Linked DNA regions of Homo sapiens: region 2 is linked to region 1. Evidence: fine-mapped expression QTL. Tissue or cell type: whole blood. Region 1 holds a variant in brackets; the other region holds the start of a gene. All regions are shown on one strand. Distances are from middle to middle.

Evidence for each region. PIP is the estimated chance that this variant, and not a neighbour inherited with it, causes the effect.
Region 2: XKR3 starts here. The variant in region 1 is fine-mapped to the expression of XKR3 in whole blood (TOPMed, PIP above 0.99).

Annotation. Positions count from the first base shown.
Region 1 is chr22:16,772,771-16,780,879 of GRCh38, reverse strand. No RefSeq gene overlaps it. Among named protein-coding and RNA genes, the nearest start is that of LINC01665, 28 kb to the right of the region's middle. The variant G/A (reference allele first, on the strand shown) is at 4,572.
Region 2 is chr22:16,822,331-16,830,430 of GRCh38, reverse strand. It overlaps XKR3 (XK related 3), which reads left to right and starts at 5,020. Exons shown (of 4, transcript NM_001386955.1): 1 at 5,020-5,140. It also overlaps the pseudogene HSFY1P1.

The DNA.
Region 1 (8,109 bases):
GAATTAAAATTAAACTTGGCTTGATATACGTAGACAGTAATATATGCCTATGTGTCCTTCTATTTTGACTATTTTGCTTCTGTTATTTCTTGGGGAAACAATCACCATGATAAATGAAGAACACTAAAGCTTAATATTGTATAATTCTCATTATTTTGTTGTTTTTGTTTTTCCTCCTACTTTTTTCTACCAAAGCAATGTGGACAATTTTCTTATTCATACTTTCTTTTATGTTTTTTTTTCTGATGAGAAATCACCACCAAAAATTAAGCTCATGTGGATTTGTGTAATTTTTCCTGCTCCTATCTATGACCATCTTTACCTTTACTTTAGATTTTACAGCTTCGTAAAACACTTATTTACTTATTTATTATCTCCCTGTATCATTATTTTTTCTTTTCTTTTCTTTTCTTTTTTTTTTTTTTTGAGAAGGAGTTTCACTCTTGATGTCCAGGCTATAATGCAATGGTGTGATCTAGGCTCACCGCAACCTCTGCCTCCCAGCTTCCCCGGTTCAAGCCATTCTCCTGCCTCAGCCTCCTGAGTAGCTGGGATTGCAGGCATGCGCCACCACGCTCGGCTGATTTTTTGTATTTTTGGTAGAGACAAGGCTTCACTGTATTAGCAAGGATGGTCTTCATCCTTGTGATCCACCCGCCTCAGCCTCCCAAAGGGCTGGGATTACAAGCATGAGCCACTGTGACCAGCCAACTATTCGTTATTAAATGAAAGAGAGAATGGCTCTCATAATAATGATGGACGCAGCCTTGTATGAAATCTTACTAAACAGGCTGAACGCCGCCTAAACATTAAAAAGCAAGGTAAATTTAAGCAAGTTTATATTTTATGCTGTCATTACATTTAATTGGGTTAAAAGTTAAGGGGTATTAGGCAGAGAAAAAAACCTCAGACTTGACTCTTGGAGCTCTGGAGTCTAATAACATAACTCACGGGAGTGGTTAAAGAAGACCTTACCCCTGAGTTTAGGCAAGACAGTGTGTGTCTTTTTTTTTCTTCGTCGTCTTCTTTCTTTTTTTCTGAGACAGACTCTCCCTCTGTCACCCAGGCTGGAGTGTAGTGGTGCAATCTCGGCTTACTACAACCTCTGCCTCCTGGGTTCAAGCGATTCTCCTGCCTCAGCCTCCCGAATAGCTGGACTACAGGTGCGTGCCACAATGCCTGGCTAATTTTTTGTATTTTTAGTAGAGACAGGGTTTCACCGTGTTAGCCAGGATAGTCTCAGCCTCCTTACCTGGTGATACACCTGCCTCGGCCTCCCAAAGTGCTGGGATGACAGGCGTGAGCCATTATGCCCAGCCAGTATGTGGTATTTTAACTGTCCATTATCACCCACTCCATGACTTCATGGCAACAGTGAAGAAGACGAAGTTCTAGGTGCAGCTTTTGATGCATGTGGGAAAAATATGGAGCTTATCTCAAAGAATTGTGGTTGTCATGGCGAAACCCTGTCTCTACTAAAACTACAATAATTAGCTGGGCCTGGCAGCAGAAGCCTGTAGTCCCAGCTACTGGGGAGGCTGAGGCAGGAGAATCACTTGAACCCGGGAGGTGGAGTTTGCACTGAACCGAGATTCTGTCACTGCACTCCAGCCTGTGCAACAGATTGAGACTCTGTCTCAAATAATAATAATAATAGTAATAATAATAATGATTGTATGATTTGAACTCTCTGAAGTTATCTTGAAGATTATTAGCTCAGATTCTTTAGCCCACCTCATAGCTTTCTTGGGGTAAGAAGTCAACTCCCAGGAGGCCTTTGTGGAAGGGAAATATACTAGTGAGAGCCACCTGGCACTCAGGTCAAGAAGTACACAAAGAAAATGCCTGGAAGGAAGAGGTTGGGGAAGGAAATTGCTGTGGAAAATCAGCTTTGAAAAACTCTCACAGTTTGTTGTTGTTGTTTGCTTTGGTTTTGTTTTTAAATAGAGACAGAGCCTTGCCCTGTGGCCCAGGTTGGAGTCATGAGGCATGATCCTGGCTCACTACAGCCTCGACCTCCCTGGGCTCAAGTGATTTTCCCACCTCAGTTTCCTCAGCAGCTCAACCTTTCTGGATTCTGTGATCCTCCCACCTCAGCCTCCCACAGTGCAGGCATGGGTCACCACACACAGCTTATTTTCGTATGTTTTATAGAGATGAGATCTTGCCATGTTGTCAAAACTGGTCTCAAACTTCTGGGCTCAAGTGACTTGTTCACCTCAGCCTCCCAAAGTGCTGGCATTACAGGTATGAACCACCATGCCCAGCCTCCTACTGGTATATTTAGAAGGTTATAAATATTTCCAGTATTGGATGTATGCACAGAGAAGCTCCTGAAGCTTTCACTTTTCCCTGACTTTGGGCTAAACACTGGAGTTCCTCAAAGAGTCAATCTGCAAAGTCTGGGCAGTTTTTCTTTTCTTTCTTTTCTCCTTTTCCTTTTCTTTGCTTGGAGTGTTTTCTAAAAATTTGTCAAAAACTGTAGATGGCAAACAGAGTGACAGAACACAGGTTAAGTGTCCATACATGACAAAGAATACAGGATACAAAAATAGCTTTAGAGGGTTGCAAAACAAGTAAATGACCCCCAAAACTAAGCAATTGTGGAGGGCAGGAATATGTTTTCTGGATATGCTGAATGATTTCTAAAGTGTTCACTGTTCAACAATAAAATACAAGGCATTCAAAAGGACAAAAAAATGGCACCCTCAACGGGAAAATAATGAAAAGAAACTGTACTTCAGGAATCCCAGCCGTGGTATTTACTAGGCAAATATTTTAATTTACTTGACTTCAATGTTCTCAAATACCTAAGAGAAGCCAGGACAACAGTGTTTCAAAAATGGAAAATACCAATAAAGACCTACAAATTATTTTTAAAAATGAAATTCATACCCTGTAACTAGAAAGACTGAAGAGTATGCATGAGCATGCAGGAAGGATAATCAAGGAACTTGAAGACGGATTGTTTGCTATTCAGTCTAAGGAAGGTACAAGAAGAGAAAAACAAGAAAAATGAATAAAACTAAGGTAGCCATGGAACAACATCAAGTATATCAACATATTCATAATGGGAGCCCCACAGGAAAAGGAGACACAGAGATAAAAAAAATAATTTGAAGAAGCAATGGCTGAAACTTCCCAAATGTGCTGATAGATACAAATTTACTTATTCAAGAATCCCAGAAGAAAAAAAATACTCCTAGAAGAATAACCTCAAAGATATCTACACTGGAACACATACACTGAAATTGACAAAAGATAAATTAATAGAGAACTTTAAAAGAAGCAAGACAGAAGTAACTGATCACATGCAAGTTATCCTCAATGACATTAACAGCCAATTTCTCATTAAAATTTATGGAGGAAAGAAGTCACTGGGGTGACATATTTAGAGGGCTGAAAGAAAACATAAATCAGTCATAAACTCAATATCTGGCAAAACCGAACTCAATTTCTCAATTTATGAGTAAGGCATTTCCAAGCAAACAATTAAAGAGAGTACATCACTATTAGATTGGCCTTACAAAATATGATGAAGTAAGGAATGTAAGAACAATACACAGTAACCCATGTGCAAATAAATAAATAAATAACATCAATAAAGTAATTACACCAGGAAATAGAAAAGCCAATACCATTGTATTTGGGGGTTTCTGTGACTTTATTTTTCTACTAGATTTAAAAAGTGGTAAGGCACAGTATTTCACATCTGTAATCCCAACCAAGGTGGGAGGTTTGGTTGAGCCCAGGAGTTTGAGACCAGCCGGGGCAACAAAGTGTGACCCTGTCTCTACAGAAAATAAAATTAGCCAGGTATGGTGGCATGAACCTCTAGCCCCAGCTACAAGGGAGGTGGAAGTGGGAGGATCCCTTGAGGCCAGGAGCTCAAGGCTGTAGTGAACCATGTTTAGCCTGCATGATTGAAACCATGTCTCAGTAAAGTAAAATAAAATAATAAAATAAAGAAATGACATATAATAAGACAAGAATTATATATCTGTGCTGTTAGCACATATTGAATAAGAAGCAATTTTTGACAAAACGTAGGAATGGAGGGACAGCAGTATGGGAAAATATTTTTATATAATGTAAACAGTTGTTATAATTCACACTATATTATTATAAATTTAAGATATTAGTTATAATACCCTTAATGACCACTAAGAAAATAACTGTTAAAATATACTAAAGAGAAATGAGACAGTCAAAATGGTACCCTAGAAAAACAATCAAATGTAAAAATGAGCAGTTTTTGGAGGAATTGAATAACAACCACAACAACAACAAATTTGTAGAAAACAAGGACAAAAATAGCAAAATCTTTCTTATCAGTAATTACCTTAAATGCAGATAAATTAAACTCCAGTTAAAAGTCAAAGATTGACAGAATGACTTTTTACATGTTTTAAAAGGGACGGGAAAATTAATTCAAACAGTAACCAAAATAGAGCTAGAGGTACTATGCAAATATCAAGAATGTTTAATTCATCAAAAAGATATTATCCTTACATATTTACCTAATAAAAGATCCGCAGGATATATGAAACAAAGACAAACAGATTTGAAGA[G/A]GTGGACAGTTCTGCAATAATAGTTGGTGATTTCAACATCCCACTTTCAACAGTGGATGAAACAACCAAACAGAGGTTCAATAAGAAAACAAATGTCTTAAACAGCATTATAAACCAAATGAGGCTATTAGACATATACAAAACACTCCACTCCACAAGTGGATTAAATATTCTTCTAAAGGGTTTATAGGTCCAGAATAGTCTTCACGGTAGGCCACAAAGCAAGTCTCATATTTAAAACTATTGAAATCACACATAATGCTTTTTCCAACCACAGTGGAATAAAACTAGAGACTGCCCCCCCTCTTTTTTTTTGAGACGGAGTTTTGCTCTGTCACGCAGGCTGGACTGCAGTGGCACAATGTCAGCTCACTGCAACCTCTGCCTTCCATGTTCAAGTGATTCTACTGCCTCAGCCTCCCAAGTAGCTGAGACTACAGGTGCCCACCACCACACCTGGCTAATTTTTATAATTTTAGTAGAGATGGAGTTTCACCATATTGATCAGTCTGGTCTTGAACTCCTGACCTCAAGTGATCCATCCCCCTCAGCCTCCCAAAGTGCTGGGATTACACGCACGAGCCACTGTGACCGCCTGAGCCCCATTTTCTAAAAACTGAAAAATGTATAATATTTGGAAACTAAACAATACACTCTTCAACAACCTATGGCTAATTGAAGAATCTGCAAGAAATTAAAGAATCCTTGCAGATAAATGGAAAATTAAAGCATATTGAAACTTCTGGGATGCAGCAAAATCAATACTGAGAAATATATAGTTGCAAACATAGACACATAAAGAAGAAATGTAAAATTATCAATTCACACACAAGGAAGTAGAAAAAGTGCAAACTAGAGAAGAGTACTTTTACAAAAAAATGACATAGTAAAGGAAGCTGGCATGTTTCCCCACCAACCCTAGCTCCCCCTCCCCCCAAGAACACATACAGGAAACCAAAAACCGATATACATTGCATAGGTTATCACCAGCAATAACTCAGAGCTCAAATATGAGGATGAGGCAGCTCCTAGGGTGACAGAGAAGTGAAGAAACCAGGCAGATGATAAGAAAGTTTGGCTTTTATATTCATGACACTCTTCCCCTAGTCTGCTGGCAACGAAGTGTAAAAAAAAAAAAAAATCCTCTGTCTCATGCTTACTACACTGGATTAAATAAAGTTGAAGTGGACAACACAAGCCACTTTTGATTTCCTGGCAGGAAACCTGTTCCTGTCTTAACCCACAGGAAGCCTTGTGAATGCCTGAAAGAAGAAGAATTCCTGAGGACAACCAGGGACAAGGCAGAAAGGCAGGACTACCACCTCCAGCCTTGATATCTTAGCCATAGGAGATGCCAAACCAGAGTGCCTGTGCAGCAGTACCATGAGGTAGGAGGTATATTTCATAATTTCCCTAGGCACAAACTTATAGCCAGCCTTCCCTCACTGTTAGCATAGCCCCTTCAGGATCTCTCTGATAGGGGACTGGCAGCAATCCTAAGCTTGCTAGAGCTGAGGCAAACCTTGGCTTAAGGCACCATCTACTGTCAAAACAAAGGAACTGACGTAGCTGAAAGCAAGCAAACAAAAACCCACCATAGGTGTGTCTAAAAAAACCTCAACGCAAATATATTCAGTAAAACACAAAATAATACAGAGAAAAGAATGAACTGAATAACTAGTCCTTCAATAAAAAGATATAGATGTATAACCACTAGAAATAATACCGAACAAGGAATCATAATCTTCCCAAATGGACAAAGCACTAAACCATTGACCAGTGCTAAATAATGTGATGGCTATCAGTGAGTTCTCTAATCAAGAATTCAAAATGGCGGTTTTCAGGAAATTCAGATCTCTAAAATGACAGAAAAGGAACTAATAAACTTCTGAGAGAAATTTTTAAAAATGAAATAATTTAAAAAATCCTGGAACTAAGAAACACATTGGCTGAAGTGAAAAATTCAAGAGACTCTCACCAGCAAAACAGATCAAACAACAAAAAAATCAAATGTGATTTTTAGAGTGAGCTCTAAAACAGGTTATTAGGGCTAGGTATGGTGGCTCACGCCTGTAATCCCAGCACTTTGGGAGGTTGAGGTGGGTGGATCACTTGCAGTCGGGAGTTCAAGACCAGCCTGGACAACATGCTGAAACCCTGTCTCTGCTAAGAATACAAAAATTTAGCTTGGCATAGTGGTGCACACCTGTAATTCCAGCTAGGTATTAGGTCTCCTATAGAATCGGTAATCTTGTCTCATTTGCTAGAAGCACAATTTAGATAAAATATAAAATGGATATAAGCCAGTGAGTTTTATATTACTCTATTGCTTTATTCATGGGTAAATTTTGTCAGGGCTATAAAATCTGCTTGCCTTTATCTATATTTTTAGCATATAGATGAACTGTGTGTGATATATTTCTACCTCTGGATGTTAGTACCAAGTTAATTTTTAATATCACTTAAAAGGGTGCTATCCAAATTGGCTAAGAGATAAATGAGCATTATTGTGAATTACATACTCCTAAAAATCCTAGAAATAGACAATCAAGTTCACATGACTCATGAAAATGTTTAGTAAATGAGATTAGTTTAAAATAGTTTATTGCACACAGCCACAGATTACAAGTTATTGTTATTATTAACTGCAAGAATACATTTGCGGGCCAGGCATGGTGGCTAACGCCTGTAATCCCTGCACTTTGGGAAACCAAGGCAGGTGGATCATCTGAAGTCAGGAGACCAGACCAGCATGGCCAAGATGTTGAAATGCCATCCTTACTAGAAATACAAAAGTCAGCCAGGAAATGTGGTGCACACCTGTAATCCTAGCTACACAGGTGGTTGAGGCAGGACAATTTTTTGATCCCAGGTGGCAGAGGCTGCAGTGAGCTGAGCTCACACCACTGCAATCCAGCCTGGATGACAGAGGGTGACTCTGTCAGAAAAAACAAACAAACAAACAAACAAACAAACAAAAAACACGAAAAAAGGGAATACACTTGATTTGTATACTTATTGGATTTCCTAATGTAGTAATTGAGCTGTGATATACTCACTGGACATTTAAGATTTTATAAAGATTTTTATGACAATAGAGAAATTTCTGCAGTTTAGTAAAAATGCATTTGCATAGAACATAAGTGGAAAGTGGTTTTATAACCAAGTCTTGTCTGAAATATCAAATATGTTTAAGAATGATTTCCATAGAATCAGATATAACCAGGTAGCATTAAGAACTAAAGTTGACCGTGGGGGCAATACTTATAAAGCCTTCATGGAAAAACCAACCTGGTAATTGGTTACAGAGTTCCTAGCCTACAAGATAAGAAAGGTCACTTCTGGGCAAGCTCTGGAACCTCACCATATTTGAAGACTTTGAGAGGAGTGGAATTCAACCAAATCTACAGGTTCTGATAGGGAAGTCGGTGGCAAGTTCCTGGCTTGGCTTCTAGTCCCAAGGCTTCAAAAAATATAATCTGAGACTAGTTACAGAAATTTTCAAAAATGAAACTGGAAAGGCCTCTGTGGCCAGGAA
Region 2 (8,100 bases), 50 kb before region 1:
AGGTTGAGGATGCAGTGAGCTGAGATTATGCCACTGCACTCCAACCTGGGCAACACAGCAAGACTCTGTCTCAAAAGAAAAGAAGGAAAATGTGCATTAGAAAACATGAAAGGTGGACTCTTACAGGAAGTAATTAAAGCCACAAGCTTTGATGGAAGATCAAAAAGGTCTATTGATAATGCCAGCTATAAAATTCTACCATGTGCCTACAGTGATACAATCCATGAGTAAAATATGTGAAGTTTATTGCGCAAGTGAGGACACAAATAATTGTGATCATGGTTACTGAGCTCGCTAGGTATGAATTGTAATGAAGAAAATCTTTGCCAACTAAAATCCAAGTTTAAAATAACTGAGAAAAAGTGAGAAAATACTGAAGTATATAGTGTGTGTTAATGTTTCTCTAGATTTTCTGTGTGTGCGTGTGTGTGTGCATATCTATTCTTTTTGTGCCATTGTAATTTAGGCCCTCATTTGATTTATGCCAGACTACTTGAGAAGTCAGTTATTACTCTTTTCTAACTCCAATTCCTTCTTTTTCCCTTGCCTGCTGCCATGGTTTTGATATATAAACATATGTATGTGAATTAGCCAACGTTGACTGTGGACTTAGAAACCATAAAATCGTGAGTGTGCACCCTCATGGCGGGATTGATAGCATTATCTGGCGAACAGGCTAGTTATTGTGTGAGTGGGCTTTGGAACCAAGGATGAGTTTGGCCCTGATTTTCTGTTTATCACATGTCCTTTACCGTAGGATGGCCTCCTGCCATGTTGCAACATAGAAAGAAGATCTCACCAGATGCAGCCCCTTGGACTTTCCAGCCTTCAGAATAATGAGCAAAATAAGTCACCTTACAAATTACCCAGTCAGTGGTATTGTGTTGTCGCAGCAGCAAATGGACTAAAACACTCTATTATTTCTTCCTCTTTAGATAATTAAATAAACTAGCTTACAAAGGGCCATGTCAAATTTCCCATCAAATGATAAAAAAGCACATATTTTTTTTTAAATGCGGTACAGTAGCCTGCCACTAAAACAAAGCCCCATTTTACTCCTAACTGTATTTTTAGAAATAAAGGAAAAGCAACCATAAAGGTCAACATGTAATTTTATTGTTCAGTAAGATTATTGCAGGAATTTTTAATGTTCTTGTCAACATAAATTTCAGTCTCTGTTGTCATGCATAATCTGGTACTCTTTTGGTGGAAGATCAGTTGTAACTAGGGTGATATTTTTCCAGTAAAGATGGTTGAAGAGCTGGCCTGTAACGAAAGGCAACTGATGTATCAGCTGTCGCAGTCATTTACAACCACAGGTTGCCTGCTGGTAGCAGGTTAGAATGAGGAGCCTCATTGGCTAATACCTCAGGATATCTGGTGGGAAAAAGTAGGTGGTTTCACTATCAGCCCCAAAGGAGGGAGATATGATGTAGTATTGAGAAGCTGTGGTTGTAACAAAATTCACAACGTGGCCATTTGCTTACATGTCGGTGCTATGAGAGTGCATATGAATATTTGTCAATTGATTTAAAATAGCATGTTGATTTGTTGTAATTTGTTCTGATTGTCCAACTGAGGTTGAAATGGAAGAGGAGGGAAACCACTTCTAATTGGGTCAGGTGAACCAGCAATGCCCTGGCTGACAGAAGATTTCCTTGTTAGAGTCATATTTAAATTTGTAGATGTTGAAAATGAACTTTCTTCACTAGTTTCAGCAGCTAAGACAGAATTATGTTTATCTGTGTTAGCCCCTGCTCTAAAGTGTTTCTTGAAATATTCAGTGAAGTAGATACAAGAGAAGTGTTTTTAATCTTAATTCTTCTTTTCGTTCTTATTAAAAGTTGGGGACAGCCACGTTTGAAATTCGGATGATAATACAACTTTAACTAAAACCAAGGAGAAGGTAATTCAGTGCCATTTTAAACCAAGAGGCAAGTAACAATAACAAACATAACCCATACAATCTCAGATTTCTGTTTTATCACACAAAGTTAATATCATCAAATAATGAATGAACATTGTTTACTATTTTTAAGAACATGCTTGTTGAGAAAAAAAAACACTCAAGTTTTGAAGCCCTCTGGTGAAAACATGTTATACATTTAATAGTAACATTTCACTAAGTGGCTTTGGTATCTTTATTTGGAGTTCACTGGTAAGACTGAATGTTGTTAGCAACATTTCTTAAAACCTGAAAGTTTAATGCTCAACCTGCACTCAATAATTTCAAAAAAATTAAGTAATTTTTACCTTAATATTTGATATAATTTTTAAAATCTGATCTTACTGCATGTATTAACATAGTTACTGATATATAAAATGAAATTACATATATACTCAAAGTGGTAACTGAAATATTTTGAATACCTTGCTTAAAACAGAAATTTCTTTTTCTTCTGCCAGAAAGTTGGCTAGAAAAGCAGATCTGTGAAAATTCTGTTGAATTTTACTAAATCCATAAAGGTTGAGCTGTCAAATTAAGATTTTCATACTGTCAGTTTGAAATATTCTGTAAGGAGCCTTTATTTCCAAATTTTCTTTCTTGAAGAGTTCTTCATTAGTCACTATGCAAGTTTCATTCTTATCCTATGAATTAGACTTGAATTGGTCACTTTCAGCTATTTTCCAAAGTTTACTGGGAAAGGTCAGAGAAGGAAAATCATTATCTTTATCTGGCTCAGAGACATAAAGTATAATGTGGCCTTTTTATCAAGGATCCTTGTGGCAAAACCTGAAAATCATTGATTCAGTCATTGACCTTAAGTCTGAATCCCCAGGGATTATGTGTTCACACAATGGAGACCCAGAGGAGGCTTTTGAACCAGTTGATTCATCTTTAGGAGAAACATCTTGAGTTTCTGCAGAAACATGTGCCATCTCAAATAAGTAATTCTTTAGCGACTTTTCCAGCCTGCATGTGTTTCAAGACTGCAGCTTCAAATGCTGCTTCAGTAGTCTACTCAGGTAAAGTAATTGAGATCACCACAGTGGTTTCCAACCTGAGTAGCAATGGCATCACAAGAGGACTTTGGTCACCTAGCAACAAACATAAAAATTTGGCCAAGACTGTTTACTTTCCAGTCTCAGAAATGTATCTGGTAAAAATAAAATATAGAATGATTACTTACACAGTTTATTCTGCAAAAGTTTCATGCCTGCAGAATCTTTTAAATTAATAAGGAGGGCCAGGCATGGTGGCTCATGCCTGCAATCCCAGCGCTTTGGGAGGCCGGGACAGGCGGATCATGAGGTCATGAGTTCGAGACCAGCCTGACCACCATGGTGACACCCTGTCTCTACTAAAAATACAAAAATTAGCCAGGTGTGGTCCATGTGCCTGTAGTCCCAGGTCTCGGGAGGCTGAGGCAGAAGAATCGTTTGAACCCAGGAGGCGGAAGCTGCAGTGAGCTGAGATTGTGCCACTGCACTCCAGCCTGGGCAACAGAGCAAGACTCTGTCTTAAGAAAATAATAAATAAATAAATAAATAAATAAATAAATAAATTAATTAATATCCTCAATCCCTGAAATAAACATAATTTTCTCCTTGACACACACAGTCTTACTAGATTGGTGCGAGGAGCATAGGGCCTGGTAATTGGACGGTGCAAAAAAATAAAAATAAATATTTTAAAAACTCTCTCAGCTTGGCATGTTGGATTGAAAACTGATGCAGTGTAAAACATATATGGTAAAAAGACATGGCCATATAGACAAAAGGTAGGTTAATGGTTGTCAGGGGCTGGGGAATAGAAAGAACTGTTAAGTAGATAATGGGGTTTCCTGTTTGATGATAGAAATGTTTTAATAATATAATTTTGAATAATGTAATTTTGTATTATGTGAAACATACCTTAAAAAATTAAAATAAAATCAAATATGAATAAAACTGATTAGATTTCAGAATAAAAAGTTATTCATGTATGTATCTATTCAAAACATTTTTTATTCATATCATAGAATAAATAATACTTTCATTTGGTATGTCTGTAAATATCTGACATGTTAATTATGTAAGATTTTAAAAGCAAGTGACCTACTTATAAGGAGATCCCAAAGAGTGGGAGATTTAAAAATGTAATAATAACAAGAAAGTGTTTTAAGTAAAGTAAATTTGTATGTATGTCTAAGCAGAAAATTTTATTATTTGGTTCCAAGAGCCAAATATCTATTTAAAAAATATTTCTTAAGGAATAATCTCTGTGTCCTGCAACGTAAAGTTATCATTATAAAACAGGAGTCAAATTTGTGAATTAATCTTAGAATTGAATAAAATATTTCTTCTCTTTGAAAAATAATCATGCCCCATTTACAGTAAGAATTTTTATATGTTCATGCTTGAGAGGTGGTATATTAAAATTCTAATGCCTTGGCTTTAAGTGTTGAATATGTGTGGAATAAAAAAATAATGATTTTGATATTTCTTATACTGTAGGAGGCAGTTCTCTCATACTGGAAAGAGGTGTCATTGTTAGAAGCTTGTCTTGGTTTAACATAGTTTAAGTTTTGGGGGTGTATTTTGTTTAGTTCAAAATTTTCCATATTAGCAGTAAGTAACAAAAATGTCCAGATCAGAAAACTCTTTGTGAAAATAAAACAGGTGCTCCTACCAGATGTGGTTCATCAATTTTGACAGAATTTTCATTTAAAAAAGGCAAAATTAAAATTTGTTTAATTGTTTGCTTTCTGGGGAATTTTCTTGTTGCTCTGTCTGAAGGAAGTACAGACTTCTTTTGTGATGGGAGGGGATGAATGGCTACTAGACAGCAGCAAAAGATGGGCCATGGGTGCGAAGAGAAGAGGGAGTTAATGGGAGAATCAGAAAAATATCACCTTAAATGTAGGACAATCGAAGTCAAATTGTGGCTGAGCGTTTTGGGGAACTAAGATGTGTGACTCTGTAGGGAGGAAGAATGCCTTGGTGTTTTCAAGGGAAGATGACTCAGCTAGTGCAGTCACCTGACTCCAAACTGCAAGCCTACTTTAGTCATAAAAAGGCAAGAAAATAAGCAATTTTACCTGCAAAGCAAAGGACGTAGTGTTGAAAACGAGACCAGAAATGGTGCTGTTAAAGAGGTGAACAAAAGCATTTACTTTTTGAACGAGTTTCAAAACTGTGAGGGTGGCAAATAGGCAAGGTAAGTAGGAGCAGCCCTCGACCATCTCAGATCAGCTTCTTCAGCCTACCTTGACCTCTGCCTGTCTCAGCTGGGGATCTTAACATAAATCTCTGGATATCAGGGGTGGCTTTTCCCGAGTCTTGAGCCTAGAAACTCCCTCTCTTGATTCTGATTTTCAGAGAAGAGAAGCAGCTGCTTAGCATTTGGGTGGGACAGTGGTTGTTACTAATATATTACAAATTTCAGCATGTTTTTAAACATCAGAAGGAGAAAGTGCTTCGTATTTAAGTGAAATCTCAAAGGGGCAGAAATCTACCATATTTTTTGTTATTCAGATGCAGTGATGCACTGGCTATGTGAGTACAAGAAACAAGTTCACTTAATCACAAACACATGCCTAAATTCCATTGTTCAGTGACTTCACTTTCACTTTCTACCTTGAATTTTAGACTCTGGAAGACCCATTTCTAAACTCTGTGGCCCTTTTCATATGTGCATATTTTCATAAGTGTTTTCCAGAAATAAATTATAGAGGTCCTTCTGTGAGTCCAAAGGAGAAGGAAGTGGTTGGGGCAGCCAGAAAGGTGCAATCTGCATTAATATCATATTCGATGTATGGATTGCTGGGGAGAGAGTGGGATATATTTCTTATAATGTTGGATGTATTTTTCCCCTATCCTGAGGCCCAGAAACTCTGATGTCTCTGCAGTTGTCTTTCCATGCTTTCCTTTATACCCCTCGCCTACTTCTGTAATTTCTCTCTCTACTCTCCCTCCTCCTTCCCACCCTTTTTCTTTCCATTTGTGCTCTCTCCCTCCATTCCTTCTTTTTCCCTTTTCTTTCTTTTTGTGGGTATCTGGTAGCTGCAACTTATTTTCTTTCTGCTTTTCTTACTCACTTACTCTATTTACTAGGTATTTAACAATTGTCTTTAAAAGTAACATCCTTTCTTTCTTAAAATTTTATCCCTAATGGACATTATTTGGGGAAAAACATTTTTATGGTGCCTCTAGATAAGTAATTATATCATCTGCACATGATTCCCGTATTTTCTTACATGCCCGTTCCTCGTAGGTGGAAATGGGTACTTCATTGTACTCTTCTCTCTTTATTTACAAGAGTGTTTTTTCTGTCTCATCCCTTTAAATAACACATTGTCTCTCTTTTTGTGACATTGAATTAATTAGGTCAGATGCGATTTTTCTCATCTATTCATTTGAAGACTGTTTCATATTGCTTCTAGGGCCTATTTGCAAGCAACAAATTATTTTGTTGTTGTTGTTGTTTTGTTTTGTTTTTTAATTTTTGGACCATTTGTCTCATCACTCCAACAAGCAAGAATTAGTTCTCATCATTAAGATCCCTTCAAGATTTCATTCACTTGTTTCAGCAGCCTTGAATTATCATCACCTGGACCTGTTGTTACATCAAGAATCTCTCATTTCTAATGTTCTACTTTGGACACTGTTACCTGTGAGTTTGTTTACATTAAAAAAAAAAAACCTTTTAGTACTTGAGTACCCTAAAGTTTCATATTTTGAATTGGTGTCAGATTTATTATTATTGATCTCTCCATTGCTGGAGAAAACTAAGCAATAGGTAAACTCTATTCTTTTGGTAATTTGTATTTTCTGAATGTTTCACAGTAAATGTTTACTAGTCTTGTGATGCTGCAAATTGGCAATCAGATATATTTTAAAGTGACAAGGTTGCCCTGTTCATCACCAGTTCTGTACATCACGCAGATCAAAAGTAAGGTGTTTAAGTTTATTTTAAATGTTTTTCCCAAAAATTCTGCTTCCACCACTTTTCCAAGCTCTACCAGATGGATACTCAAGAATTGACCAAGGCAATCTCTTCTCTCATATTTCACTGTCAAATACTCTTAATCAGTGAGTCCTGTCAATTCTGTGTTTCTAAGAAATGATGATGGTGGTCATGATTATAATGATGTCAATAGGAACACCTTTCCAAACTTCACTGTGTACCACGAACTCTTCTTCCTGCTGCCGATGTATTATTTTCTCTACACTGCTATCTCCCCAGGAAGATTCTAATGATGTTATCATTGTACAGATGTGGAAACTGTAGCTTATGAGGTTTTAATTTTGCAATTCAAGGAAATGACAGGATTCTGGCAGTGTGGTAGCTCATGCTTGTAATCCCAACACTGGAAGGCTGAGGCAGGTGGATCACTTTAGCTCATGAGTTTGAGACCAGGAAGATGGTCAAACCCCATCTCCTCAAAAAACACAAAAATTAGTGTACATGGTGGCATGCACCTGTGGTCCCAGCTACTTGGGAGGCTAAGGCAGGAGGATCATTTGAGTCCTGGAGGTTGAGGCTTCAGTGAGTCTAGGTCACGCCACTGCACTCCAACCTGGGTGACAAGGGCAGATCATGTCTTAAAAAATAAACAAATAAATACCCACCACAACCAAAAGCAAAGGAAGCAAGCATAATAAGCTAGTTAATATGCTTGTTAGCAATGTGGACATTTATTTTATAGTTAAAAGAAAAAAATAGAAGTGACAGTATTGTAACTCAGAAAGTCTGGTTCCAGAGTTTGTACTGCTAACCAGAACAACTTGAGCATCAGTTGATATTTTCCATTTTTTTTGCTCTACTTTGTCTGATATTAATATAGCCATTCCAGCAGTCTTATCACTAGGGTTAGTAGTGCACAGCTTTATTCCATCTCTTCCGTAGTAATTGTGTCTTTATGTCAAGTATGGGTTTCCAGGAGACAACATATAACTGGATTTTACTATTTTTATTTCTCTTATAGGCTTTACCTTTTAGTTGTGGTATATAAGCCATTTACAGTTAATGTGCTGATTGATGTAGCTTTCTGTTTTCTCCATGTGTTACTTGTTCCATTTTCTCTTATCTGTCTTCTTTTCTATTATTTATTTATTTTTTTAATTTCCTATTATGGCCTTTGTTGGTTTCTTAGCTGTTACTGTTACTTTAGTTCT